4 linked regions of the Homo sapiens genome follow. The protein of the gene in region 1 purifies or fractionates together with the protein of each later gene. This does not show direct contact. Each region holds a gene or a part of one and is shown in the gene's direction. Other genes may lie near its edges.

Region 1 (7,025 bases):
CAGGAGATCGAGACCATCCTGGCTAACACGGTGAAACCCCATCTCTACTGAAAATGCAAAAAAATTAGCCAGGCGTGGTGGCGGGCGCCTGTAGTCCCAGCTACTTGTGAGGCTGAGGCAGGAGAATGGCGTGAACCCAGGAGGTGGAGCTTGCAGTGAGCCGAGATCGTGCCACTGTGCTCCAGCCTGGGCAACAGAGCAAGACTCCATCTCAAAAAAAAGGAAACAAATATCACAGCTCAGCCTGGGCAACATGGCAAAACCCTGTCTATACAAAAATTAGCTGGACGTGGTGGTATGTGCCTGTGATCCCAGTTACTCGAGAGGCTAAGGCACGAGAACCGCTTGAGCCTGGAGGCGGAGGTTGCGGTGAGCCAAGATCACACCACTGTACTTCAACCTGGGCCACAGAGGGAGACCCTGTTTAAAAAAAAAAAAAAAAATCAAGTGTTTATTCATTTTTTCCTTTAGGAACCTACTAGTTAAGACAGGTGAGACTGACATGTACAAATATGAAGAAAATATATAGGTAACTAAATAAACATTGAATGAAGGTAAAATCAACATTAAGTTTGTATACAAGTAAAAAGTATTTGTGGAGTAGTGAATGCAAGATTAACAATTGGAGTTTGAAGTTGGGCTGGAGTGGGGTTGCTGGAAGTTGTTATTTTGGTGATGCTGAGAGAAACAGGGAGGAATAACTGGTAGAAAAAATCTGGAATGGGGGGCTGGTTGTGGTGGCTCACCCCTGTAATCCTAGCACTTTGGGAGGCTGAAGGGGGAGGATAACTTGAGCCCAAGAGTTTGAGACCAGCCTAGGTAACATAGTGAGACCCTGCCTCTACAAAAAAATACAAAAATTAGCCAGGCATGGTTGTGCATGCCAGTAGTCCCAGCTACTTGGGAGTCTGAGGTAGGAGGATCACTTGAGCCCAGGAGGTTGAGGCTGCAGTGATCCGTGATTGCACCACTGCACTCCAGCCTGGGTGACAAAATAATAATATTCAGGTCGGGAGAGATGATGGGGATGTGAATAGGACATTACGTAAAGGCTGATTATTGGGAAATACATGAGGGAAGACCTTTAATCCTAATCTTCATAATCTGGCAGTAACTACATAGCATCAGTCTCTACAGTTCTCTGACCTCAAGTTTTGGGCAAATATAGTCACACATCACTTTATTGTACTTCACTTTTTTGTGGTTCACAGATAGTGCATTTCTTTCCAAATTGAAGGTTCGTGGCAACCCTGGGTCAAGCAAATCTATCACACCGTTTTCCCAACAGCATGTGCTCACTTGGGGTCTGTGTGTCACATTTTAGTAATTATAATATTTCAAACTTTTTCATATGATTATAACTGTTATGGTGATCCATAATCAGTGATCTTTGATGCTGCTGTTGCAATTATTTTGGGGCACCACATGTCCATGTAAGACAGTATATTAGTTCATTTTCTTTTTTTTTTTTTTGAGACAGAGTCTCGCTCTGTCGCCCAGGCTGGAGTGTAGTGACGCGATCTCGGCTCACTGCAAGCTCCACCTTCCGGGTTCATGCCATTCTCCTGCCTCAGCCTCCCGAGTAGCTGGGACTACAGGCACCTGCCACCACGTGCAGCTAATTTTTTGTATTTTTAGTAGAGACGGGTTTCACCGTGTTAGCCAGGATGGTCTCGATCTCCTGACCTCATGATCTGCCTGCCTCAGCCTCCCAAAGTGCTGGGATTACAGGCGTGAGCCACTGCGCCCAGCCTATTAGTTCATTTTCATACTGTTGATAAAGATACCCAAGACTGGATAATTTATAAAGAAAAAGAAGTTTAATGGACTCACAGTTCCTGGTGGCTGGGGAGGCCTCATAATCATGGCAGAATGCAAAAGGCACATCTTACATGGCAGCAGGCAAGAGAGAATGAGAACCAAGTGAAAGTGGAAACCCCTTATAAAACCATCAGATCTCATGAGACTTATTCACTACCATGAGAACAGTATGAGGGCAACTGCCCCCATGATTCAATTATCTCCCACCAGTTCCCTCCTACAACACGTGGGAATGATGGGAGCTACAATTCAAGATGAGATTTGGGTGGGGACACAGCCAAACCATATTAGACAGTGAACTTCATCGATAAATGTCATGGGTGTTCTAACAACTCAACCAATTGGTTATTCCCGTCTCCCTTCTTCTTGGGCCTCCCTATTCCCTGAGAAACAGCAATATTGAAACTAGGCCAATTAATAACCCTAGAGTAGATTGTGAGTCTTCAACTGAAAGGAAGAGTCATACATCTCTCTGATTATGCTTAGTGAGAACAGCAAAAGCCAAGACAGACCGAAAGCTAGACCTCTTGTCCTGAGCAGTTAGCCAAGTTGTGAGTGCAAAGGGAAAGTTCTTGAAGGAAATTAAAAGTGCTACTCCAGGGAACACACAAGTGATAAGAAAGTGAAACAGCCTTATTGCTGATATGGAGAGAGTTTTAGTTGGCTGTTGAGAAGATTAAACCAGATACAACTCTTTTTTTGTTTGTTTGTTTGTTTTTTTGAGACAGAGTCTTGCTCTCTTGCCCAGGCTGGAGTGCAGTGGCGTGATCTCGGCTCACTGCAAGCTCCGCCTCCCAGGTTCATGCCATTCTCCTGCCTCAGCCTCCCTAGTAGCTGGGACTATAGGCGCCTGCCACCACACCCAGCTAATTTTTTTGTATTTTTAGTAGAGACAGGGTTTCACCGTGTTAACCAGGATGGTCTCGATCTCCGGACCTCGTGATCCTCCCATCTCAGCCTCCCAAAGTGCTGGGATTACAGGCTTGAGCCACCATGCCCGGCCAGATACAACTTTTTTAAAGCTAAAGGCTGATCCAGAGCAAGACCCTAACTGTCTTCAATTCTGTGAAGGGTGAGAGGTGAGGAAGCCTCAGAAGAAAAGTTTACAGCTAGTGAAGGTTCTTGGTTCATGAGATTTAAGGAAAGAAGCTGTCTTATTACATAAGTGCAAGGTAGGCTAGGCGTGGTGGCTCAGGCCTGTAGTCCCAGCACTTTGGGAGGCTGAGGCGGGCAGATCACTTGAGCCCAGGGAGTTCGAGACCAGCCTGAGCAACATGGTGAAACCCTGCCTTTACAAAAAATACAAAAAAGTCATGGTACCAGCTACTCGGGAGGCTGAGGTGGGAGAATCACCTGGGCCCAGTAGATCAAGGCTGCAGTGAGCCATGATGACGCCATCGCACCCCAGCTTGGGCAACAGAGTGAGACTTTGTCTCAAAAAAAAAAAAAAAAAAGATGAACCAAGCACTGATATAGAAGCTGTAGCAAGTTATTCAGAAGATCTAGCTAACATCATTGTTGAAAGTGGCTACAATTAAAGAGCTCCTCAGTGTAGACAAAATAGCCTTATACTAGAAGAAGATGCCATTGAGGACTTTGATAGCGAGAGAGAAGTCAGTGCCTAGCTTCAAAGGAGGGGTGATCCTCTTGTTAAGGGTTAATGCTGTTGGAGGATTGACTCCAGTTTTGAAAGAAGTTGTGGTAAAATGCTATCAGACAGTATTGCATGCTTTAGAGAAATCTTCATTGAAAGGATGAGTCAATGCAGCAAACTTCATTATATTTTAAGAAATTGCCACAGCCACTCCAGCCTTCAGAAACCACTGCCTTCATCAGTCAACAGCCATCAACATGGAAGTGAGACCCTCCACCAGCAAAAAAAATGATGACTCACTGAAGGCGTAGATGATCTTTAGCAGGTTTTAGCAAAGTATTTTTAATTAAGGAATATATATTTTTAAGACATAATGCTGTTGTACACTTAATATACTATAATATAGTGTAAACAATTTTTATATGCAGTGGGAAACCAAAAAATTTGTGTGACTTACTTACTGCAATTGCAATATTTGGTTTATTGCAGTGGTCTGGAACCAAATTTGAAATGTCTCTGATGCTTGTACTGCTCTAATCTTGTACCTTTTAAAATCTTTCGGCTGGGTTAGTTGTCCTAGTTTCAACAGTGCTATGTATGAAATATATACATATGGTCATGAAATACATTTTTTTCCTGCAGAAGTCAAATTTTCTACTACTCTACTGGGATGACTGTGGGAATTGTGGCCTCTCTGCTAATCATCATTTTTATACTATCTAAGTTTATGCCTAAGGTAAGTATCAGAATCTTCATGTGCAGCTAGAATGAATTTGGATAGCTGAAGGACTGTTTTCCTGGGTAATCTTAGAAAACTGAAAATGTGTATTGATGGCTGATGAGTCAATATCCTACTCTCCTTGATTCAGAAAGGTACTTTCCACGATGAAACTTGGAGCCTGATTACAAATTCTTTCTTTTTATATAAAATCCTGTGCTCAGAGGGGGATTAAAGTCTGCTTCCTGTTTTTTAATTATATAGCCAGGCTTTTAAGTTATTTAGCATTTCATCTTCCCAGTGTTCGTTGCAGACTGTACCATTTTAAGTATAAAGGACATCTTTTTAAGAGAAGTGTTTTTTGTGCATTTTGAGTAGGTTGAATTTTTTAAAAAAAAAATCATAGTTCCATTTTGCTTCTTTTATGTATGGAAAGCCTGTTGTAACTTTTTGCTTTCACTTCTACTCTCTGTCTTAGAAAAGTCCCATTTACGTCATCCTGGTGGGAGGCTGGTCTTTTTCTCTGTACCTCATTCAACTAGTTTTTAAAAATTTACAAGAGATCTGGAGGTGTTACTGGCAGTATCTTTTAAGTAAGTGTTGTCGGTTTTGCTTTCCTTTTGTACGTTTATAGGCTGTTTCAGTTAATTTGATCATGAAAAGATTTTGCCTGCTTATGGGATTTAATAGTTCATGTCATTTTTTTAAACTTTTAAAAATCATAGTTTTTCACTTATTTCTAATCCCTCTACAATTATCACCTTCTCTTAAATTAGAATGGTGCTGTTAAGGCGAAGATGTTCATTTATTGGTATTTATAAATATACCTTTCTTTACACAATAAACATCTTTCTGAAAAGCTGTAAGTTGACTTTATTAATGGAATCATATTTTAAATATACTTGGGGACCTTAAGTAAAAGACTCCGCAGTTAATTTTTTTCTCCTTCATTTCTGAATGAACTGCTGTAGATTTTATTTACAAAGTAAAAATCCTTGGTCATATAGATAGTAACCTTTGAGTTATCCTTTGAAGGGTGATTAATCTGGATTTCTGTATATTGGTTTTTTAAAATAGTCTATTTCAGGGTTGTTCAACATGTACCTTTAATGTTCTGTTTGAACCAAATAAATTTGGGACAGCAGAAAGGATAGAAACTTAGAGAAATATATTCTAAGAAAAAAGTGTGAAAAATTAAGTAAAAATCTGATTTCCTAGTTCAATTGGTGCTATATAGTAAATTAACTACTGCTTCCCACACAAATTATTTTTACCAAGTATAGATGAAAAAGAATGTCTTCTGATAACTCTTCTCATAGGTTATGTCCTCACAGTTGGATTCATGAGTTTTGCAGTATGTTACAAGTATGGGCCCTTGGAGAATGAACGAAGTATCAACCTGCTGACCTGGACCTTGCAGCTGATGGGCCTGTGTTTCATGTATTCTGGCATCCAGATACCACATATTGCCCTTGCCATTATCATCATTGCTCTTTGTACTAAGAACCTGGAACACCCTATTCAGTGGCTGTACATCACCTGCAGGTGACTGAAAGGCAATGTAACTTAATATTGACAGGTACATTGTGGGATGCAGTTGCAGCAAGAGGATACAGAGGTGTTGACCTGGGAGCTTCTTTGTTAATGAAAAGTCATTGTATTGTACTTCCACTTTTGTTCCTTCCCGAGTCTATTTTTTTTTTTTTACTTTCTATAGGAATTTTTATATTTTTATTCTAGTCATTTTATATAAAATGTCTAGTAAAATGTCATGTGTTCCTGTTACCACAAGGTGGTGCAAATTCTATCACTGTTTTTTTGAGATGGAGTCTCGCTCTGTCGCCCAGGCTGGAGTGCAGTGGCGTGATCTCGGCTCACTGCAACCTCCACCTCCCGGGTTCAAACGATTCTTCTGCCTCAGCCTCCTGAGTAGCTGGGATTACAGGCATGCGCCACCACATTCAGCTAATTTTTATATTTTTAGTAGGGTTCCCCATGTTGACCAGGCTGGTCTTGAACTCCTGACCTCAAATGTCAGGAGTTCATAAAGTGCTGAGGAGCTCCCAAAGTGCTTGGATTACAAAGTGCTGGGATTACAGACATGAGCCACTGCGCCCCGCCACAAATTGTATCGCTTTTATACCGTATGCTCATTGAGGTCTCCTGGGTTCAGATTTTTTTTTTGAGACAGAGTCTCTCTCTGTCACCCAGGCTGGAGCACAATGGCGTGATCTCGGCTCACTGCAGCCTCCACCTCCCGGGTTCAAGTGATTCTTCTGCCTCAGCCTCCCGAATAGTTGGGACTACGGGTGGGCGCCACTATGCCTGGCTAATTTTTGTATTTTTAATAGAGATGTGGTTTCACCATGTTGGCCAGGGTGGTCTCAAACTCCTGACCTCAGGTGATTTGCCCACCTCAGCCCCACAAAGTGCTAGGATTATAGGCGTGAGCCACCTCACCCAGCCCATTTCAGACTATTTCTCAGTGGCTTTCAGATTGCTCTGGAGGTCTTAGTCTTATTTTAAGATGTAATTCATAGCATGTTTTGTCACCTTGCATAATAAATATGGAATGTTACTAGGTCCTGAAGTTGTCTATTATAGATAGTCAAGGTGATGCTTTCAGTTTGGGAAACCAAGTTACTGGACCACAATCTTTTTTTTTTGAGATGGAGTCTTGCTCTGTCACCAGGCTGGAGTGCAGTGGTGCTATCTCAGCTCACCGCAACCTCTGCCTCCTGGGTTTAAGCGATTCTCCTGCCTCAGCCTCCTGAGTAGCTGGGGTTACAGGTACATGCCACCATGCCCAGCTAATTTTTGCATTTTTATAGTAGAGATGGCGTTTCACTATGTTGGCCAGGATAGTCTCAATCTTGACCTTGTGATCTGCCC
Region 2 (7,025 bases), on another chromosome or scaffold:
GCCCCTACTCAGAGCCCGTCCTTGTCCACCCTCCAGGAGATCAGTAGTTCTCAAAAATGGTGGTAGGGAGTGGAGGATGGACCAAATTCAAATCGCCTAAGGAGGAGCTGTTTTAGAAGACACTCTCCCAGGCTCCTGCCTCCTCCTCCTGGGGCACACAGGTAGCATAGTCTGCAAGTTAAGTACTTTACTAGTTGAGTAGTTTACTAGTTGAGAGTTTGGATTCTGAGCCAGCCACACTGGAGTCAGAATTCTAGCTCTTCCCTTATTAGCTATATGCCCTTTGCCCAGATACTAAGCCTCTCTTATTCCCATCTCCTCATCTGTAAAATAGTGATGATAGCAATCGTAACCATTGCATGGGAATGTTATCAGAATTGGGGGAAATAATCTGTGCAAAATGCTTGGCACGATACCTGTCATATAAGGAAATGCTCAGTGACTGTAAAATTTTCTTTTATGACTGGAACCTAATTTTATTCAGAAGAAAACTTTGAGAGCTTGTCCAACTCTGAAAAGAACTAAGTGATTAAAGTTACTTTGATTATAATTCTAGACATTAGCCTGCTTTAAAGATATTAGAATCATAGTACAATTCAAGCTGTTTTCATTTCATCTGAAAGGCTTGCAATGTGAGTTATGATGCATGTAAAAATGTTGTCATCCTACTTATCAATTTATCCCACACACAAATGTTTTTGAAAACTTGCAATGATGACAAATTATCTGGGAATCGGAAAGCCACACCTTTAACTAGTTATCTTCCCCCGCCTTCCTTCCCCTCTTACCCCACCCGGGAAGAATTCCCTGACCAGGAGCGCACCCCTCCCCAACGACTCCCAGGCCCGCAGTGGAGCTCGTTTTCACACTTCCTACGACAAAAGATACATCATCAAGACTATTACCAGTGAAGACGTGGCCGAAATGCACAACATCCTGAAGAAATACCACCAGGTAATTTTTCTTGATCTTTATTTGAAACTCCAAGAAGATTAACATGCGTAGCGATTTCTCACCAAGGCCAGAGATTTAAATATATAGTTAGAGAACAAGAAGAACACATTTCACATAAACATCTCCTCTAACCCTGTGTTCTAAAATTACAGTGGCCAGATTCCTGGCAGTTAACCTTTAGGCATGCTTGTGCTATAAAGGTCATTCATTATTTGTATAACACTTTTAACCTAAATACTCTTGTGTAATAGTTTCAGTTATCACTACTCTGATTTTAAAATCATTCAGCTTAAGATTTGGCAACTTTGCAGAAGTTTTTGCCTGTGCCAGAGATTAGGTGTTGACCTCTGAGTATGTATCTATTTACACCTCCGAATCCTATTTTGCTGTCACTGGTTCTTCTGTCCTGGCCCCAGCAGGGCCCACGCCATTCACAATCTGCTACGGAGCAAGCTCTCTGATTTTAGAAGGTGGGTGTTGGTCTGCTTCTTGCCCCCTTTTCATCCCCGAGCATAATTCCATTGTAATCACTGGAGGTAAAGTAGACCATCCTTGGGAGCAGCAATCTGTCTCTCCTGGAGTAAATTCCAGCACAAGCTTCTCTGGTAGAGCACATGTTCCCAAGGCCCAGCCCGCGCTGTGAGAGGCCTCCTTCACCATGGAGTATAAGAGCATGAAGTCCAGCGTTGGACAATCCTGGGCTCAAATCCCAGCCAGGTCGCTTACTAAGCATGTGACTTCTGGTCTTGGTTGTTTTTTAGAGACAGGGTCTTGCTCTGTTGCCAGGTTGAAGTGCAGTGGCGTGATCACAGCTCACTGCATGCTCAACCTCCTGGGCTCAAGCAGTCCTCCCACCCCAGCCTCCCAAGTAGCTGGGACCACAGGTATGCACCACCATGCCTGGCCAATTTTTTTAAGTTGTGTTTTTATAGAGGTGGAGTTTTGCTATGTTGCCCAGGCTGGTCTTGAACTCTTGGGCTCAAGCAGTTCTCCCATCTTGGCCTCCCAAAGTGCTAAGGTTACAGGTGTGAGCCTCCACACCCTGCCTGGATTTTGAAGCCACAGTTTCTTTGTTTATACAGTCGGGATAATAATAACACCTAATATGGATTCTAAAGATTAAATAGGAAATTGCATGTCAAGTGCTTAGCACAGTGTCTGTCACACACTAGATACTCAATGTGTGGTGGTGGCCATAGCATCGCTATTATCAAGATAACATCCATGGTATAAAAATAACGTAACAACTAAGTCACTTGGAGAAATTGTAGTCATATGGTATGAACATGTCTGCTGTTGCAACATCCCAGGAATCATCTTCACAACTGGTGTTTAAAACACATACACACATTGTTGCTTTTAGGACCTTAGTCAGCTTGAGCTGTCATAAAAAACCGTAGACTGGGTAGCTTAAATGACAGAAATCTATTTCTTACAGTTCTAGAGGTTGAAGTCTGAGATCAAGGTGCCAGTATGGTCAGGTTCTTCCTGGTTTGCAGACAGCCAGCTTCTCACTGTAGCCTCACGTGTGTTGGCAGGGTCATGGTGGGTGGGATAGGATCAAAAGCACTCTTCTGTCACTTCTAATAAGGGCACTGATCACATAATGAGGGCTCTAAGCTCATGACCTAATTAGCTCTCAAAGGTCCCACCTCCTAATACCATCACTTGGGGATTAGGGTTTCAACGTAAGCATTTTGGGGGACACAAACTTTCCATTCATAGCAGAGTCACACGGTGTTTTTAACTTAAATAGCTCCCAATCCCCCAAAGGTAAAAATTGGCTGTCACAATGGGTATTCAAAATAAAGTGCCGCAGGTCCTGAATATATTAATAAAAGGATTCTCGAGTATAAACAATCACACTTACTAAGTATCTGCTTCGAAGGCAGCACTGGCCTGGACTTGTGAGCTCCTAGATGTCTGTTTAAACATCCCTTTAAAAGCATTACTTTATGTTCATGCATGATGCTCTAATATCATGGATTCTTTCTTGGCAGTTGCTTATTCTTCCAATCTTTGCAAATATGATCAATTGCATTTTGCTTGCAGTGAAGTCTATAAAAATCTTTGAGCTATATTCTGTTTCTTGAAACTTGGTACTGCCTCTAGTTTGTTTTCTAAAATCATTAGCCTCTAAATTCATTTAATATCTAATAAATCTTTTATAATATCTATTCCTTTTGAAATTTGTTCTACACTGCTTATGCTACTGCCTCTTATTCTACAGGAAATTTTAAAGTGCCAGGATGCTACCTGTGAGGGGGAAGACATGAGGCTCTGTTATCTGAATGAATTGAATTACAGGTTGCAGCTTTGAACTCTTCACCTTTTAAACTGTCTACTTTTTCATTTTTTCCCCTCTGGAAATTGATATCATACTTATGCATTCTCTTTATACTTTCTTTCAGTTGTCTCAGAACATTCAAAGCGAAGTGATATCTCATGACTGATGAGAGCATATTGTTCTAAAAAATGGCCATGATACCATGCTAATAAAATGTGACACAGAATTGAAGTACCAACTTCTTGATGACAACTTTGAGTTTAGCATCCTTTGACTTTACAAAAATCACGATTTGAAATGTTTTCTCTGGGTTAGTTATTGTAACCTAACATAGGGATTTGACATATCCCCAGTGTTACATAAAATAAGTGTGGGATCAAAATAAGTCTATTGACACCTCCCAGGGGCTTTAACAGTATAAAGACTTCCTTCTGTTCCACTGCTACAAAATTGTTATCTTATTGGTGAGTTCTTTATTCAGAAAAGTCTCCTTTATCCAACATCTATACTTTTTCTTTTTATAAACAGAATATTTTAAATATAATTTGTAGGGTCTTAATGATTGGGAATCACATTATTAATATAAATTATTTAAAGGGCACTAAGTAGAAGTCAGGAGACATAGATCCTAACCTGTTAGGAACTGCCTCTTGGATGATCTCTGAACTCAGCTTCTGCACCTGCATTTCATTCATTCATTCATTTATTCATGTATTCACTCTTGACCTTATTCCAGAAAGGATTTAAGGTGGCCTTCAAAGAAGTTGGAAATACAAGCTAGAATAAATGAAAAAAAGAAAAGGAAGAGGCAGAAAGATAAAGGCACAAAATGGAGCCTGGAATGAGCGTAGATATTCATGCCAAGATGACCAGCATGCTTGATACTTTGAGTCTGTTGCCAAGGAGAAATGTAAGTGGTCTTGGTACTAAGATGCAACAGGGTTGACTCTAAGGAGTTCCCCACAGAGCGGACACAGGGACATCTGACCTGATAAAACAACATCCTTGCCACAAGCTGAGAAACATACAAGAATGTTAGAGAACTTAAAAAAAAATTGTCCGTATAGGCTGCTAATTATCAGTATAGGCCATGTATAAATACAGCCACAGTTGCAGCACCGTTTTGCTAATTTGTCCATTTTTAAATTACATTTAAACGAAAGCAAATTAAGAACAAGGAAATGTATAGGTGACACAAACGTTGACCATTAAAGGTGGACATGCCACTCATATACATCTCAGCAAAATCTCACATAGAAGAGGTTTTTAAAAATACAGCAGCAGTGAAGAGTAACAGTGTTAATTACATGATCAGAGAATTCCACAGAAACCTCATAAAAGGTCTCAACATTCACACAGCTTATTTGATACTGATCTATTCGGGGTGACCCCTGCTAGGCTCACTGAGGGCAGGTCTGGGACCCTGCTCAGGTTGGCAGGTGTTCATGAAGGAAGATGCAGTCCGCCGAGTCAAACATCACACCCGCAGCAATTAGCAAAGGCCACACCAGTGTGTAGTTTACATTTAGTAAATGCTGTTCTACAGAGAAAGGCTATAATGCACACCGGCTGCCTAGCCCTCTCCCATTCTGGCTTCTGTTTGAATGTTCTTCAGGCTGTTCTTCTTGTATGCCACTTCCAGACGAGATTTTGATGAATATTACTGGGTGGTGGGCTCAGCCTGGCATGTCCTCATGTGATTCTGTGTGACCGGACACAGGCCTGTCATTGGTAAACCCAGGGAGGCCTGTCAAGCTTTGTGTTTCTATCCCTGTGGTTTGAGATGCTCAGAGGTATTTGAGGTATATGTCAGGCCTTCATTCCTACTTTCTGTGGGCCTAGAGTACTTTTAGGGTTTGTATCTAAGAAACTTTCTCTCTCTAGCTTCAGTAGTGATCATCATTTCTTCTGTTTCTTCTTGCTTGTTGTTGCTTTTGCCTTGGAACTCTCTGGGCTTCTGAACCTTCCGAATCTAGACAAGTAATGCAGATCGTTCAGGTGCATATCAGTTGATGAGAGGCTCTCATAGAGGGTTTCTCCCGTGGAGTGAATTGCATGGACTTTCTGACAACTTTGGTTACCCAACAGCCCTTTTTTTTTTCTTTTCCTTTGTTGTTTTTTGTTTTAAGGAAATGCAGCCACAGTTGGAATTATATTCTGGAGGGTTAAAATTGCCCAAGGCCAGCCTCTGGAGAAGTAGAACATGGCTAGTTATTTGAATATTTGAATAAATTCTTCCTAGGTTTAATTTTCTGACACACTGACCTTCCCAGCAATCTGGGATGGCAGGTGGTTCAAGAGCAAGGACTTGGAGCCAGCCAGCCACCTTCTGGTCCCAGCCATGCCCCTGGCCAATGGCATGACCTTGGGCAATTTACTTATACTTTTGACACCTCTTGGTCTATAATATTTGGATAATAGTACCCTCTTCATTTGGGTGTTGTGCTAATTAGGTGAATTCATATTATAACATGCTCAGAGCAGTGTCTAGTATATAAGAAGTGCTAAATGGGCCAGGCGCAGTGGCTCACGTCTGTAATCCCAGCACTTTGGGAGGCCGAGGTGGGTGGATCACCTGAGGTCAGGGGTTCAAGACCAGCCTGACCAACATGGTGAAACCTCATCTCTACTAAAAATACAAAAATTAGCCAGGCATGATGGCACGTGCCTGTAGTCCCAGCTACTCGGGAGGCTGAGGCATGAGAATCGCTTGAACCCAGGAGGTGGAGGTTGCAGTGAGCCGAGGTTGTGCCACTGCACTCCAGCCTGGGTAACAGAACGAGACTCCGTTTCGAAAAAAAGAAAAAGAAGTGCTAAATGAGTGACTGAATAAGATTTTTAATTAAATATCGTTCTTGTATTTAATTTCCTACACCTCAGTGTTGAAATCATTCTCATGTGGCATTCAGTCCTTAACTCTTTTAATCCACTAGGGGGCCTGGTTTCTGGTAGACTGTGGCACTGATGCAGAATTACGAAGACTTCAGCCGTGAGGAGTTAGATTTTTCCCCCAAGTTCCAGTATCTTGCTCTATTCTTTATTTCCTGCCCAAATTCTACCCTAGCTTTCACTCTGTGCAAAGAAAGAAGAGCATCATCTCTCAGACCAATGGAGAATTCATATTAAGCACAGCAAACTTTCATAAATTTTGTTTACTTCATTTGATTTTCTCTTGTAGTTGGGAAAATAATGTTTCGCTATAAATATCCTTTTCACATTTCTGTTAGGCTGTAAGAAACTCGGATCCTATAAATGATGATTATCAGTTGATTAACTAAACAATGTTAGAACATTCAAAAAGGAAAAAATGGTAAAAAACCTATTTGCCTACTTGAATATCTTTTTATCTTAAATCGACTGAATTTTTTTTTTCCCCGCACTGACGTGAATTCATTGGGAGCTTTGGTATCATGTAGCTTCAACTTGAATTAAAATTGAAAAGTATTGACTGGACACAGTGGCTCATGCCTGTAACCCCAGTGCTTTGGGAGGCCGAGGTGGACGGATCACTTGAGGCCAGGAGTTCAAGACCAGCCTAGCCAACACAGTGAAATCCGGTCTCTACTAAAACTACAAAAAATTAGCTGGGGGTGTATGCCTGTAGTCCCAGCTGCTCAGGAGGCTAAGGCATGAGAATCCCTTGAACTCAGGAGGCAGAAGTTGCAGGGAGCCAAGATGGCATCACTGCACTCCAGCCTGGGTGAGATTCTGTCTCAAAAAAAAAAAAAAAAATTGAGAGGCACTGTTGGTAACATACTTCCCTGAAGTTGTATAGGACTTAGAA
Region 3 (7,025 bases), on another chromosome or scaffold:
TTTTACCACCAGCAGGCAAGCTCCTGCTGTGCCTGGCCAGCTTTTAGGCACAGGCAGGTGTCAGACAGGTTCGTCTGGACCGTGGACTTGGCAGCTGGCTCCCTTGGACATTGTGGAACGTGGAAGAGAAGCTGGAAGATTTGGGCTTTGGTCCAGAGTCCACCACTTGTTTATTGACCATAAGAAAGTTTCCGTTCCTCTTACCCTGAGTTTCTTCAGCTGGAAAATGGGAGCCATGATTTTCCCACCTAGCAGAGGGCCTTAGACAGTGAAGTGAGCTGACTAGGAAGTCCTTCCCCTGGACCTGGCTAAAAGTTCATCCACTCCATGTGGTCTCTCCCTTTCCTGAGTAGGGCTTGGTCTCCCCGTCTCGAAAGTGAAGCTAAACCTCTCAGGCTGGTGTGACACAGCATTAGAGATAAAAACCTTGTGTAACTGAAGTGCTGGACATATTTAAGGTGTGACTGTTGAGCTGTTAGCAGTCCTGCGTCCCCTGACCTGCACCGATGGGTGGCGTGGGATGTTGAAGAGCAGTTCAGCAGCAGTGGCCACCCCGCTGGGAGAAGGGGCTCCTGCCCATGACCAGGGCCCCTTGCCTTTCCCCACAGATCCTGGCTGCAGCTCTGACCGAATGTCACCGGAAATCCAGTGCCCAAGGCAAGCCTCTGGCCCTGAAGGTCTTTGTGGCTGGCAGAAACCGTCTGGAGAATGATGGCGCCACTGCCTTGGCAGAAGCTTTTAGGGTGAGTGGTTTCTGTCCATCCTGCCCCTGCAGCCTTGAGGTGCACTCGGCATAGTAGGCTGACAGTTCTGGATGCTAATCCCAGGGCTGGCACTCAACCAAGAGACCTGGGGCGTCACGTGCCCTCTCCAAGCCTGTTAACCCATCCGAAAATGAGCCAGAATTCCTGTCGTGCATTTCTGGAAAGGTGTGTGACTTTCCGGAAAGGTGTGTGACTGGCTCCCACTGGTGAGCCAGCCCCTATGGGGCTTCAGGCCAGGCAGGCCACTCTGACCAAGGAGTGTCATCTGCCAGGCTCAGAAGTGGTGAAGTGAGATGGTGCGAGTGCTGACAGTAGCCTGGCCCAGCCACTGGTGTGGGGCACAGAGAAGGAACATACCAGACCTCCAAGACAGGGAGATAGGCAGGGGCAGCCGCAGGGCTCAGGTGCCAAATGACGTGCTCTCAGGTGACCTTATCCCCACTCCTCTTCCACTCTCCTCTCCCCATCCCCGCAGGACATTGCTGAGTCCCCGATCGTGAGTGCCAGCAGAAGGCTACACTTGCCCCTAACAGGACTGAAAACTTTGGGGTCTGTCTCCCTCCTCTCTTTCCTGTTTTTTTTGAGGCAGAGTCTCATTCTGTCACCCATGCTGGAGTGCAGTGCGTGATCTTGGCTCACTGCAGTCTCCGCCTCCCAGGTTCAAGCAGTTCTGCCTCAGCCTCCCGAGTAGCTGGAATTACGGGCACCCGCCACCACACCCGGCTAATTTTTGTATTTTTATTAGAGACGGGGTTTTACCATGTTGGCCAGGTGGTCTCGAACTCCTGACCTCAAGTGATCTGCCCGCCTGGGCCTCCCAAAGTGCTGGGATTACAGGCGTGAGCCACCACGTCCGGCCCCTCTTCTCTTAATTTAAATGTTTTCTTCAGCAAACAGTATCCTAGGAGCATTGCTCATACGGGCCGGAATGTCCTGGCTGCCCATCGAGGCTGTCTGTAGATACCCTTTGCCTGCTTCAGTGCCAAGTGAACATCGCAGAGATCTGCCTTGTGTCTCCCTGCACCCCTGGCTGCAGGGGAGCTCCTGCTGCCTCCTCTGGAGCTGGTGGGGGCCTCACTGCCATCCTTGGATCCCTCCCTGCCGTCAGCCTGCTGTCCTCAGTGCACTGGGAGGAGGGGGTGCGCTGTGGTTGTGTTGAGCCTTCATAGGTGTCCTCTGGTGGGCTTAGAATGGGGGTTCTTAATCCCCCCCAGTATGTGGATAGAATTCAGGGGTCTGTGAACATGGATGAGGAAAAAATAACATTATTATTTATTACTAATGTAGCTAAAATATGTAGTGTGACCTTTGATTATAAATGTAGACAATAAACCTCACAGCATTAGAAAGGCCTGTGACTACCCACATAACAAACAAGCACATGTAGTCCCTGAACCCAAAAAAAAAAAAAATTTTATTGAGGCAGGGTCTCGCTCTGTTGCCCAGGCTGGAGTACAACGGTGCAATCTCAGCCCACTGCAGTTGAAGCTTCCCAGGCTCAAGTGATCCTCCCACCTCAGCCTCCCGATTAGCTGGGACTACAGGTGTGCACCACCATGCCCACCCAGTTAATTTTTGTATTTTAGTAGAGATGGGGTTTCACCATGTTAGCCAGGCTGGTCTCAAACTCCTGACCTCAGGTAATCCACTCGCCTTGGCCTCCTAAAGTGCTGGGATTATAGGCATAAGCCACTGCGCCCAGCTTAAAATTTTTAAAAAAATAAAAAGAAAATCTTGTGACTTTATCCCCAGTGGAAATCACAGGTATTTCATATGAAGTTATAGTTACTGCTGATATATAGAAATATTTCTCACTACATCAAAATTACAGTAATAGTGGACCCACCCCTAGATCTTGTTATTTGGTGCATTAACAAGAAGTTTGTATATCACTACAGCATGCGTTTGGAGTTTTTTCCTAAATGTTTTGATAACTGTTCCAACTGAGTTGATTTCCTTTGTAATTCTGTGTAATTTATCTTAAAATTTTAAAAAAACATTTTTTGAGGAGGGGACCCAGGGGCTTCACCAGACTGCCTGAAGGGTTCATGGCACAGAAAATACTAAGAAGGCCTGACCTGGAGTGTGCCCAGGTTGGCCTTCCTGTATTTATTTGTGGACCACCCGCTCCCCCCATTGCCCTGTGCTGCACTGAGCACCTGAAGACAGCAGAAGATTCCTTGGCACAGTTAAGCCAGGCCAACCCTCAGTCCTGGGTCACAGTGGAGACTGGGACATGGCCCTCTCCTCCAAAGCTCAGGGGCCGATGGGATGCAGACGGAATATAGGCTTTGAATGTAGGCAGGATGAGGACCACCGTGATAGAGGAGGGACCAGGTGCTCCGGGAGCACAGAGGAACGCACACTGGATCGTGGCTGGGGGAATCCAGGAAGCCTTCCTGGGAGAGGAGGTGACCAAAACAAGAGCCCTAGAACTCATATGAGTTAGCCTGTCAAGAAAATGCTGAATGGCTGGGTGTGGTATCTCACGTCTGTAATCCCAGCACTTTGAGAGGCCGAGGAAGCTGGATCGCCTGAGGTCAGGAGTTCAAGACCAGCCTGGCCAACATGGTGAAACCTCCATCTCTACTAAAAATACAAAATTAGTCGGGTGTGGTGGCGCACGCCTGTAATCTCAGCTACTCAGGAGGCTGAGGCAGGAGAATCACTTGAACCTGGGAGGCAGAGGTTGCGATGAGCCAAGATCATGCCATCACACTCCAGCCTGGGCGACGGAACGAGACTCCGTCTCAAAAAAGGAAAAAAAAAGAAAAAAGAAAAAGAAAATAAGGAGGCAGAGAGAATGGGTATCAAAAGGCCAGGCTGTGATAGGGCTGCATGGGCCAGGGAACACCCTCCTCATCCCTAGAGAAGGACGCCATGTCGAAGGGGTTATGTTGTGTAGGTGGGTGGGCTAGGAGGGCCCCTAAGAAAGAAAGGTCACATGGAGCTATGTCATCCAGAGAAGGGGCATGAGTGCCTGCCCACCACAGCCAGGGTCCCCACTGTGCTGAGGACACCAGACTGAGAACAAGAAATCGACCTGCTGGATCTAGAGCTCTGTGACCCTGGGCAAGTCACTTCGCCTCTTTGATCCCTAGTCTTTTCTCTGGTGGGGATCCTATCCCAGGCAGTAGGCCTCCCTCAGGAGGTTGTGGAAAGAGTTAGATGCAGCCATGCCCCAAAATCCCACAGACAGGCCCCTGCCCTGTGCTGGCGGCAGCCCATTCCTGTGCCTGCTGTGTGGAATTGCTCTCCTGCCTGCTGGATGTCACCTGGCACTCGGGGCCCCCTCCACTCTCTGCCTCCTCTTCACAGGTCATCGGGACCCTGGAGGAGGTCCACATGCCACAGAATGGGATCAACCACCCTGGCATCACTGCCCTGGCCCAGGCTTTCGCTGTCAACCCCCTGCTGCGGGTCATCAACCTGAATGACAACACCTTCACTGAGAAGGGCGCCGTGGCCATGGCCGAGGTGAGGCGAGTGTGGCAGAGCCAGTTGGGCCCCGCCAGATAGAGGCTGGCTGCTGTCTTTCCAGGGAAGCTGGGGCTCCGTTTAGCAGGGACTCCTCTACCCCCTGCCTGCCCCCTGGGTGTGTGCCCCATGGCTCCAGCTCTTTGAACATGTCCTGAACAGGGTTGCAGGTCCCAAGGTAACCCACGCCCTCCTCGGGCAGCTCTGATTCTTCATGCCACCTTCTCCTGAGCCGCCTCTGCAGCCCCCAGCGGCTGCCGCTGGTTTGTTCTCAGGCTGCACAGGAGCAGACTGCTCCCCACATCTGTTTTCCTGGTTGATTTGTTCAGCAGCTGTTGTTTGTTTTGTTATTTATTATCACTTTTTGAGACGGAATCTTACTGTTGCCCAAGCTGGTCTTGAACTTCTGGGATCAAGTGATCCTCCCACCTCAGCCTTCTGAGTAGCTGGGATTACAGGTGCAGGCCACTGTGCCTGGCCCAGCAGCTGTTTTTTGAGTCCCCATTTAGTGCTTGGCTTTGTACCAAGTGCAGGCCACATGGGGTTGAGCCAAAGACCCCGCCTTCAGGGAGACCCTAGCTCAAGGAGGGAAGGAAGCTGCCAGTGGTAACAGTGCTGGGCTCTGAACGCAGTGGCTTCTTGGCTGCCAGGGTCCCGTGGCCCCACAGAAGGCTAGTCCGGCTGCCTGTGTGTTAGCAGAGATGTGTGCAGGTGTTGGGGAACACGCCAGAAGGAAGTTCAAATCAGACTTAGGGCAGGCTTCCTGGAAGAGATCACATTTTGGCTAAGTTGTATAGGGCAAGTGGTCTTTCTCTGGACAGAGGGTGGGGGATGGGTGTTTCAGGCAGAGGGATCAGCTTACGTGTGGAAGACCCGGATGCTCAGCAGGAACCTTGCTTGGTTGGTCTCAGGAAGAGTTCTGGCCGTAACATGGGGAGGGGTGGAGGAGGTTTGGCCAGGGGCCCAGAGGCCAACAAGTAGAAGACGGCAAAGCTGGTGACTTGCAGAGGAGGACAGTGTGTGGTGGCTGGCTTGGGATGTGACCGTGTGGGGCCCCCGGGGCTTGCTGAGGGCTGGGGTGTGGTCTGCACCCTCACTCTGGACCCTTGCTTCCCCCTCACAGACCTTGAAGACCTTGCGGCAGGTGGAGGTGATTAATTTTGGGGACTGCCTGGTGCGCTCCAAGGGTGCAGTTGCCATTGCAGATGCCATCCGCGGCGGCCTGCCCAAGCTAAAGGTGCCAGCCTGGACGCCTGACGTCCTCCCTCTGGGGTCTGTGGGTGGTGGGGCGGCTGGGGGCACAGGGGTCTGGTCTGAAGGCAGGTGGGCCTGTGTCCATATCCCAGCTCCTCCACTTCGGGCCCTGTGATGCTGTGTGAGCCTCCACACCCCTCTGAGCCATGGTTTCTTCATTTCTAAAGCGGGAGGCAGGGAGTGGTGTACATCACTGTCTTGTGATTTAAGTAAACACAGTACGTGACTCATCGTTGGCTGCAGGGCATTATTTTTGTTGTTGGTGTTATTCTTCCTGCCCACTTTGCCCCACCTGGAGGACAGAGCCTGCCATATCCTCACTTGGGGAAACTGAGGCTTAGAGTAGAACCTGGTGTCCTGGCCCGGGTTTCTGCCTGCCTCCAACCCTTCCTCTTATTTTCAGGAGCTGAACTTGTCATTCTGTGAAATCAAGAGGGATGCTGCCCTGGCTGTTGCTGAGGCCATGGCAGACAAAGCTGAGCTGGAGAAGCTGGACCTGAATGGTAGTCGGATGGGGGAGGCCTCTGCACAGGTCTGCTAGGCTGGCCCTGGCACCCCGGCTGACTGCTCTTCCCTCCCCTTGAGCAGGCAACACCCTGGGAGAAGAAGGCTGTGAACAGCTTCAGGAGGTGCTGGAGGGCTTCAACATGGCCAAGGTGCTGGCGTCCCTCAGGTAGGGAACTCGGGGTGGCCCCAGAGGTCGGGGTCAGGCCATTCCTTTCTTTCTTTCTTTTGTTCTTGAGATGGAGTCTTGCTCTGTTCCCCAGGCTAAAGTACAGTGGCGTGATCTCGGCTCACTGCAGCTTCCACCTCCTGGGTTCAAGTGATTCCCCTGCCTCAGCCTCCCAAGTAGCTGGGATTACAGGCACCCACCACCACACCTGGCCCCTTTATTTGTTTCTACTTGTATTTATTCAGAAACGTTGGGTGCACTCCTGTTACGTACTAGGTCATACACTAGGCATCAGGGCTATAAGGATGGGACAGTCAGGGCTTCTGTCTCGTGGGGTGGAGACAGAATGAGTTGTCCGTTCAACAGAGGAGCTCGTACGGGCTGAGCGGGGCCACCCTGTAGAGTGGTGGAGTTGGGGAGGCCTCTGAAGGGGTGAGGCCAGATCTCATCCTGATGTGGTGGGGCCTGGGGAGTGATGGGGGTGGGAGGTGGGGGCAGCCAGAAGGGGCTGCACTCGGGATTGTTCTTAAGACGCTGACTCTAGAAAGGAAGAGACCATGGGGCCTGGGGAGTCTACCTGGAGGTGAAGGTGGGTGGCCGGGGAGTGGCCATCTCCTGGATCCAAGTCCGGTTGGGCCATCAGCATCGGGCTCCCTGTGCCCCTCGCATCTCCAAGTCGGCCTCATTCGTGTGTCAGATACTCAGTCGTGTCTCCTCGGTGCTAGGCCCTGAGCTGAGGCTAGGAACTGGGGACTCCGAGGTGGGCTGAACCTCACAGGTCCCACTGTCCCTGGGAAATGGTCCAGCCTTCCTATGGGGCAAGGACACCCCTACTCTTCTTCCTCCCCCACACCTGT
Region 4 (7,069 bases), on another chromosome or scaffold:
CCAAGATTGTGGTCCACCTGACAAATGAAATCACGTAGGCACTGCCGAGTCCTCAGGGGCCGGTGTGATGAGAATGGCTACAACTCAATCATTATGCAACTTATCTCAAAGCCTGTCATGGTTGCCACCCAGTCTGACCTCTGATATCCTGGAGCCAAGGTCCTCACCCATCATGTGAATTTGCATGTGAGGGAGGGTGAGGAGGAGACACTGAGGCAGGCAAGGCATTCTGCAAGCTTTTGCAGAGTTTTCATGGACACATTCTGATTCCCACTGTGTCCAGGTGGGAGTTCTGTACACATCACAGATGGAAAAAAGAAACTCTCTGTGGATTTGGCAGCACCCTGGATTGGATGTTTGAAGAAAGCTATTGCATCTGCCCCGTATCTTCTGTGAATCGGGTACCTTTATGCTTCTGGGAGGTCAAGAAGAACCCAGAACCCTCCAGTGACTTCCCTTTGGGTCTTGGCATTATGAGAAGATGGTTAACCTCCTTTATAGAACTCTCCTTCACATCCAATCCTTCAGAAAGCCTAATTGATCCCATCTTCTTAACCCAACCCCTCCCCTGGACATCGTTCCTAAGCCCCTTAAAGAAACAGATGGCGGCTGGGCACGGTGGCTCACGCCTGTAATCCCAGCACTTTTGGGAGGCCAAGGCATGTGAATCATGAGGTCAGGAGTTCGAGACCAGCCTGGCCAATATGGTGAAACCCTGTCTCTACTAAAAATACAAAAATCAGCTGGGCATGGTGGTAATCCCAGCTCCACTGGAGGCTGAGGTAGGAGAATTGCTTGAACCCCGGGAGGCAAAGGTTGCAGTGATCCGAGATCGCACCATTGCACTCTAGTCTGGGTGACAAAGCGAGACTCCGTCTCAAAAAAAAAAAAAAAGAAAAGAAAAGAAAAGATATGGATGGCATATCCTTGTACCTCCAGGGCCTGACACACAGTGCTGGCACCACAGCCCCAGTCCCCCGGGGTTGATGGCATGATTCACTCCCTGACCTGGAGACTGGGGAGGCTTGTCAGCTTATAGGTTTCCACAGCAGGCAATGTGGCCGAATTGCTTCCAGAGAAGTAGGGAGGTGAGTATGACCATTACTTGTGTCTAAAAATCCGACGTGACTAACTTACAAACACATAAGTTACCACAAATGATTTAGGGAGGAGGAAAGAAGTGCAGACAGGCAAGCTTTCAGATCGTTTCAGGAAACCAGGAAGCAGGGAGCACAGCGTTGCAGCCAGCAAGGGAAGACGGAAGCTGTGAGTCCTGGCTCTGAGGGCCTCCCATCCAGTTGGGCTGATGGATGAGACAGGTACAGTCTGTGCTGGGCCATCGTGAGGCTTGCAGAGGGTAGTGCCAGGGTCACACAAGGCGTCATGGCCTCAGAATTCTGAGACCTGGTTTTCCATCTGAACTCATCACCCTTAGTGGGAGACCTAGGGTGCGTTTCTCTTCAATCCTGGGTTTCACCTCTCTAAACAAGGGACAATAGTATCTACCTCAGAGGGTTGTGGCAATGACCAAATGTGTCACAGGTGAAAATGTCCAGTAGTTTCTGGCATTTATGACGTGTTCGGTCAATGTTAGTTCACTATTGTTATCCCATTTACTAAGCGAATGCATGTGACACACCATGCGTTTCTGAACCTCGTATGTGAGAGTGCCTGGCATAGAATTGATGTTCATTAAAGGTTTATTTTTTAAATTTTTAGATAAACTTATTTTGAAATAGTTTTAGACTTGAAGAGTTGCAGAAATACTAGCGAGTTTCCCTGTATCCTACATCCAGCTTCCCCTAATTTTTTTTCCCCCAAGATGGAGTCCTGCTCTGTTGCCCAGGCTGGAGTGCAGTGGCATGATCTCGGTTCACTGCAAACTCCGTCTCCTGGATTCAAGTGATTCTTGTGCCTCAGCCTCCTGAGTAGCTGGGATTACAGGCGCACACCACCATGCCCAACTAATTTCTGTATTTTTAGTAGAGACGGGGGTTTCACCATGCTGGCCAGGCTGGTCTTGAACTCCTAACCTCAGGTGGTCTGTCTGCCTCAGCCTCCCAAAGTGCTGGGATTACAGGTGTGAGCCACTGCACAGGGCCCAGCTTCCCCTAAAAATGTTAACGTCTTACCTAACCATAGTAAGAGGATCAGAACCAGGAAATTGCAGATCTTATGTGAATTTTGCCCGCTCTCCTGCTACTGTCCTTTCCTGTTCCATGTTCCCAACCAGCATCCCATGTTCCATTTAGTTGTTGTATCTATCCCCTTAGGGACGATTCCTAGATTGTGACAGTTTCTCAGTCTTTGTCTTTCAAGACCCAAAGTGTCCAAGGACACTTTTGATGGGTACTGGTTAATCACTTTGTAGAACAGGTCTCAATCTGGGTTTGTCTGGTGTTTTCTTGCGATTGGATTGAGATTACACACTTCTGCAGGAATACCACCACAATATGTTGCTTTTAGTTTTTTCCTCCTTTATTGTGGTAAAATACACTCAACATAACATTTACCATTTAAACCACTTTATTTTATTTTATTATTATTTTTTGAGATGGAGTTTCACTCTTGTTGCCCAGGCTGGAGTGTAATGGTGCGAACTCAGCTCACCACAACCTCCGCCTCCCGGGTTCAAGCAATTCTCCTGCCTCGGCCTCTCGAGTAGCTGGGATTACAGGCATGTGCCACCACGTCCGGCTAATTTTTGTATTTTTAGTAGAGATGGGGTTTCTCCGTGTTGGTCAGGCTGGTCTCGAACTCCCGACCTCAGGTGATCCGCCCACCTCGGCCTCCCAAAGTGCTGGGATTACAGGCGTGAGCCACCGCTCCCGGCCTAAACCACTTTAAAGTGTATGATTCAAGGGCAGTATGTAGATTCATCCTGTTGGATCATTTCTAGACTTTTTCATCATCCTAAAACGAAACCCCAAGCTGCTTATCTTCCTCCCCTAGCACCTGGCAACCTCCAATCTGTGTCGCCTCTACGGATTTGCCAATTCGAGACATTTCATCTGGATGGAATCATACGCTATGTGGCCTTTTTTGTTTGGCTTCTTTCACTAGCATAACGTTTCCCGGGTTCCTCCACACTGCAGCATGCATCGGTGCTCCATTCCTTTTTGTAGCCGAATAATATTCCATTGCATGGACAGATCACATTTTACTTTTATTTTCTAATTCAACAGTGAGACCTGGTGTGGGCCCCGGCGCTGGGCCTGGGAGGCGAGGGAGGGGATGGAAGAGAGCCCCGTGACTGGCAGGAGGCACTGTGGAGTGTGGGGAGAAGGGGTCGGGATCTGCATGCTAGAGAGAATAGGATTTTATTTACACGTGGCAATGTTTATGGAGGCCAATGCACAACTGCCATTATGGGACGCGGACTCCTTTGAAAGTCTCATTTGTGTAAAAGGAAAAGCAGTAGTTCATGAGGAGGGGGAGAAGGGCTCAAGGACAGCAAGGTAAACTACCCCTGGGGCGGGGGAACGTGGTCGTCGGTGGGCCCAGCTTTGGAGGCTAGGCCCGTGAAGGTCGCCCCGTGAGCAGGTCCAGGGCAGGCCGAGTGCCCCGGGGCCCGCATTCATTGCTTACAGAGCAAGGGGAGCCTCCCGGGAGGGAAATCCAACGGTTGGAAACTTCGATTTATCCCAAAGGCGTGCCGAGTGGGAAGGCAACATTTTGATTTCCCAAACGTTGCGGCCAGCGGCTTCTTCCACGGCAGGCGCCTTCAGGTCTCTCCGCAGGGTCGGGACCCCGGGCGGCGCGCGGCCTCTGGGACGCCGAGGGAGGGCGGGCCCACAGCGCCCGGAGCGCGGACAGCGGCCACAGCCCGCCGCCTAGAAGCGGCGCCGCCCGGGGCGGGGGGCGGAGCCGAGCGCGCGCCCCGCCCCGCCCCGCCCCGCCCCGCAGCCCCAGCCCAGCGCGCGCACCAAGGCGGGGCGGCGCGCGGCCCGTGCGCGTGTCCGGGGCCAGGAGGCGGTGGCGGCGAGCGCGGGCCGCGCGTGCGCGCTGCGGCTGGGCGAGGGGCGGCGCGGGCGCGCGTCTGTCAGTGACAGCGGGCGGGGCAGGGGCCGGAGATGGTGGCGGCGGCAGCTCTTCCGACATGAGGCAGCGGCCGCGGGGGACACGGCGGCGGGCGCGGCGGCGGCCGCATCTCTAGCTCGGGGAGGCGGCCCCCGGCGTGGGCGCGGGCGGGCGGGCGTCCCGGCCGGCGTCGCGGGAGCCCGGCTCTGCGGCAGCGTCTGCACCGCCGCCCGGCGAGGGGCCCGCGTCCGTGGTTCCACGCGCTCGGTCCCGGGACAGCTGCGGCCGCGGCGGGAGCGGCGGCGCACTCGGGGGGAAGCAGGCCCCACTAGACGGGCCGCGCCGACGGGCTCCGCGCACTCGCAGCCCGGGGCGCCCCCACCCCCAGCGCCCGCCGCCGCGGGCAGGGCCGGCCCGGAGCGCGGGGGGCGGCCGGGGAGCGCGAGCCGGGGGCGCCCGCCGAAGCTCGCTGCTCCGGGTCGGGGTCCGGGCCCGGGGCCGGCCGCGCGCCGCCTTTGACGCATCGGAGCGCGGCTCCTGCAGGATGGAGGGCTCCGCGCCGCCAGCGGAGTTGTTTGTGCGCAGGCGGCTCGCGGGGCTGGGAGCGCTCAAGGTCTGAACTTCCCTCCGGAGCCGCAGCTGGAGGAGGCGAGCGCGCGAGGAGGAGAAGCCGCGCGGCGCGGAGGCCACCCTCGGGGCGAGAGGCGCGGAAGGCGAGCGAGCAAAGCGGTCCCGGAGCCACGGCGGCCACGCGGCGGGGACCCCCGGGCGTTCTAGGTCCGTCCCGAGCGGTTCTCGTGCGCCTCGAAGGTGGGGGCGGTGGGGGCGGTGGGAGCACCGCTGAGCCGGGAACCACAGGAACAGATGGTGCCTGTCCAGGTCGCGTGCTGGAGCCGCCCCTTAGGACAGGAGCAGGTCCCGGGCCTCTAGGCGTGCATGCCTAGGTGGGAGCGCCGCTAACTCTCCCCGTTTTGCTGGCAGGTACTGGTGACCCCGGCCGGGGCAGGCCCCGGGACTCGACAACATGGCTTCCCCACCCCACCAGCAGCTGCTGCATCACCACAGCACCGAGGTGAGCTGCGACTCCAGCGGGGACAGCAACAGCGTGCGCGTCAAGATCAACCCCAAGCAGCTGTCCTCCAACAGCCACCCCAAGCACTGCAAATACAGCATCTCCTCTAGCTGCAGCAGCTCTGGGGACTCCGGGGGCGTCCCCCGGCGAGTGGGCGGCGGAGGCCGGCTGCGCAGGCAGAAGAAGCTGCCCCAGCTGTTCGAGAGGGCCTCCAGCCGCTGGTGGGACCCCAAGTTCGACTCGGTGAACCTGGAGGAGGCCTGCCTGGAGCGCTGCTTCCCGCAGACCCAGCGCCGGTTCCGGTATGCGCTCTTCTACATCGGCTTCGCCTGCCTTCTGTGGAGCATCTATTTTGCGGTCCACATGAGATCCAGACTGATCGTCATGGTCGCCCCCGCGCTGTGCTTCCTCCTGGTGTGTGTGGGCTTCTTTCTGTTTACCTTCACCAAGCTGTACGCCCGGCATTACGCGTGGACCTCGCTGGCTCTCACCCTGCTGGTGTTCGCCCTGACCCTGGCTGCGCAGTTCCAGGTCTTGACGCCTGTCTCAGGACGCGGCGACAGCTCCAACCTTACGGCCACAGCCCGGCCCACAGATACTTGCTTATCTCAAGTGGGGAGCTTCTCCATGTGCATCGAAGTGCTCTTTTTGCTCTATACCGTCATGCACTTACCTTTGTACCTGAGTTTGTGTCTGGGGGTGGCCTACTCTGTCCTTTTCGAGACCTTTGGCTACCATTTCCGGGATGAAGCCTGCTTCCCCTCGCCCGGAGCCGGGGCCCTGCACTGGGAGCTGCTGAGCAGGGGGCTGCTCCACGGCTGCATCCACGCCATCGGGGTCCACCTGTTCGTCATGTCCCAGGTGAGGTCCAGGAGCACCTTCCTCAAGGTGGGGCAATCCATTATGCACGGGAAGGACCTGGAAGTGGAAAAAGCCCTCAAAGAGAGGATGATTCATTCCGTGATGCCAAGAATCATAGCCGATGACTTAATGAAGCAGGGAGATGAGGAGAGTGAGAATTCTGTCAAGAGGCATGCCACCTCGAGCCCCAAGAACAGGAAGAAAAAGTCTTCCATCCAAAAAGCTCCTATAGCCTTCCGCCCTTTTAAGATGCAGCAGATCGAAGAAGTCAGTATTTTATTTGCAGATATCGTGGGCTTCACCAAGATGAGTGCCAACAAGTCTGCCCACGCCCTGGTGGGTCTCCTGAACGATCTGTTCGGTCGCTTCGACCGCCTGTGTGAGGAGACCAAGTGTGAGAAAATCAGCACCCTGGGAGACTGTTACTACTGCGTGGCGGGCTGTCCCGAGCCCCGGGCCGACCATGCCTACTGCTGCATCGAGATGGGCCTGGGCATGATCAAGGCCATCGAGCAGTTCTGCCAGGAGAAGAAGGAGATGGTGAACATGAGAGTCGGGGTGCACACGGGCACCGTCCTTTGCGGCATCCTGGGCATGAGGAGGTTTAAATTTGACGTGTGGTCCAACGATGTGAACCTGGCCAATCTCATGGAGCAGCTGGGAGTGGCCGGCAAAGTTCACATTTCTGAGGCCACCGCAAAATACTTAGATGACCGGTACGAAATGGAAGATGGGAAAGTTATTGAACGGCTGGGCCAGAGCGTGGTTGCTGACCAGTTGAAAGGTATGTGCACTGCTTTACCTCGGCATCCCCCCTCCCTGATCCTGATTGTATTAAATTAAAAAAAAAAGCTTCCAGCCTCAGTGTCTGCAGACAGCTCAGGTATCTCAGAATGCCTTACCATGGGGGGATCTCAGGGTCAGTGTGACTTTTCTTTCAGCGGGTCAAATATCACAGATCTGTTCACACTGCAGAAAGGGACGCTGTGCAGAGATGACCTAGACGCGACCTTTAGAAGGAAGGAGAACTTTGAACGTGCATAACCACTGGTTGGCTGAAATGTGGGGGCACGTCCGGTGAATGTAAGGGTATGGAGCCCTTCAGCATTCAGCACT

Evidence for each region.
Region 2: the proteins of NEMP1 (region 1) and PIP4K2A purify together in Homo sapiens (affinity purification with mass spectrometry; 2 studies listed by BioGRID and IntAct, with this or other methods). This does not show direct contact.
Region 3: the proteins of NEMP1 (region 1) and RANGAP1 purify together in Homo sapiens (co-immunoprecipitation; 3 studies listed by BioGRID and IntAct, with this or other methods). This does not show direct contact.
Region 4: the proteins of NEMP1 (region 1) and ADCY9 purify together in Homo sapiens (co-immunoprecipitation; 3 studies listed by BioGRID and IntAct, with this or other methods). This does not show direct contact.

What each region holds. Positions count from the first base shown.
Region 1 is NC_000012.12:57,061,772-57,068,796, reverse strand, and holds part of NEMP1 (nuclear envelope integral membrane protein 1 isoform a precursor), read left to right. Parts: intron 1-4,057; coding exon 4,058-4,151; intron 4,152-4,611; coding exon 4,612-4,726; intron 4,727-5,452; coding exon 5,453-5,678; intron 5,679-7,025. UniProt on the Homo sapiens protein: Together with EMD, contributes to nuclear envelope stiffness in germ cells. Required for female fertility. Essential for normal erythropoiesis. Required for efficient nuclear envelope opening and enucleation during the late stages of erythroblast maturation.
Region 2 is NC_000010.11:22,585,558-22,592,582, reverse strand, and holds part of PIP4K2A (phosphatidylinositol 5-phosphate 4-kinase type-2 alpha), read left to right. Parts: intron 1-801; coding exon 802-954; intron 955-7,025. UniProt on the Homo sapiens protein: Catalyzes the phosphorylation of phosphatidylinositol 5-phosphate (PtdIns5P) on the fourth hydroxyl of the myo-inositol ring, to form phosphatidylinositol 4,5-bisphosphate (PtdIns(4,5)P2). Has both ATP- and GTP-dependent kinase activities.
Region 3 is NC_000022.11:41,255,164-41,262,188, reverse strand, and holds part of RANGAP1 (ran GTPase-activating protein 1), read left to right. Parts: intron 1-608; coding exon 609-743; intron 744-4,082; coding exon 4,083-4,241; intron 4,242-5,364; coding exon 5,365-5,478; intron 5,479-5,898; coding exon 5,899-5,998; intron 5,999-6,083; coding exon 6,084-6,168; intron 6,169-7,025. UniProt on the Homo sapiens protein: GTPase activator for RAN. Converts cytoplasmic GTP-bound RAN to GDP-bound RAN, which is essential for RAN-mediated nuclear import and export. Mediates dissociation of cargo from nuclear export complexes containing XPO1, RAN and RANBP2 after nuclear export.
Region 4 is NC_000016.10:4,113,418-4,120,486, reverse strand, and holds the start of ADCY9 (adenylate cyclase type 9), read left to right. Parts: upstream 1-4,044; 5' UTR 4,045-4,797; intron 4,798-5,001; 5' UTR 5,002-5,044; coding exon 5,045-6,737; intron 6,738-7,069. UniProt on the Homo sapiens protein: Adenylyl cyclase that catalyzes the formation of the signaling molecule cAMP in response to activation of G protein-coupled receptors.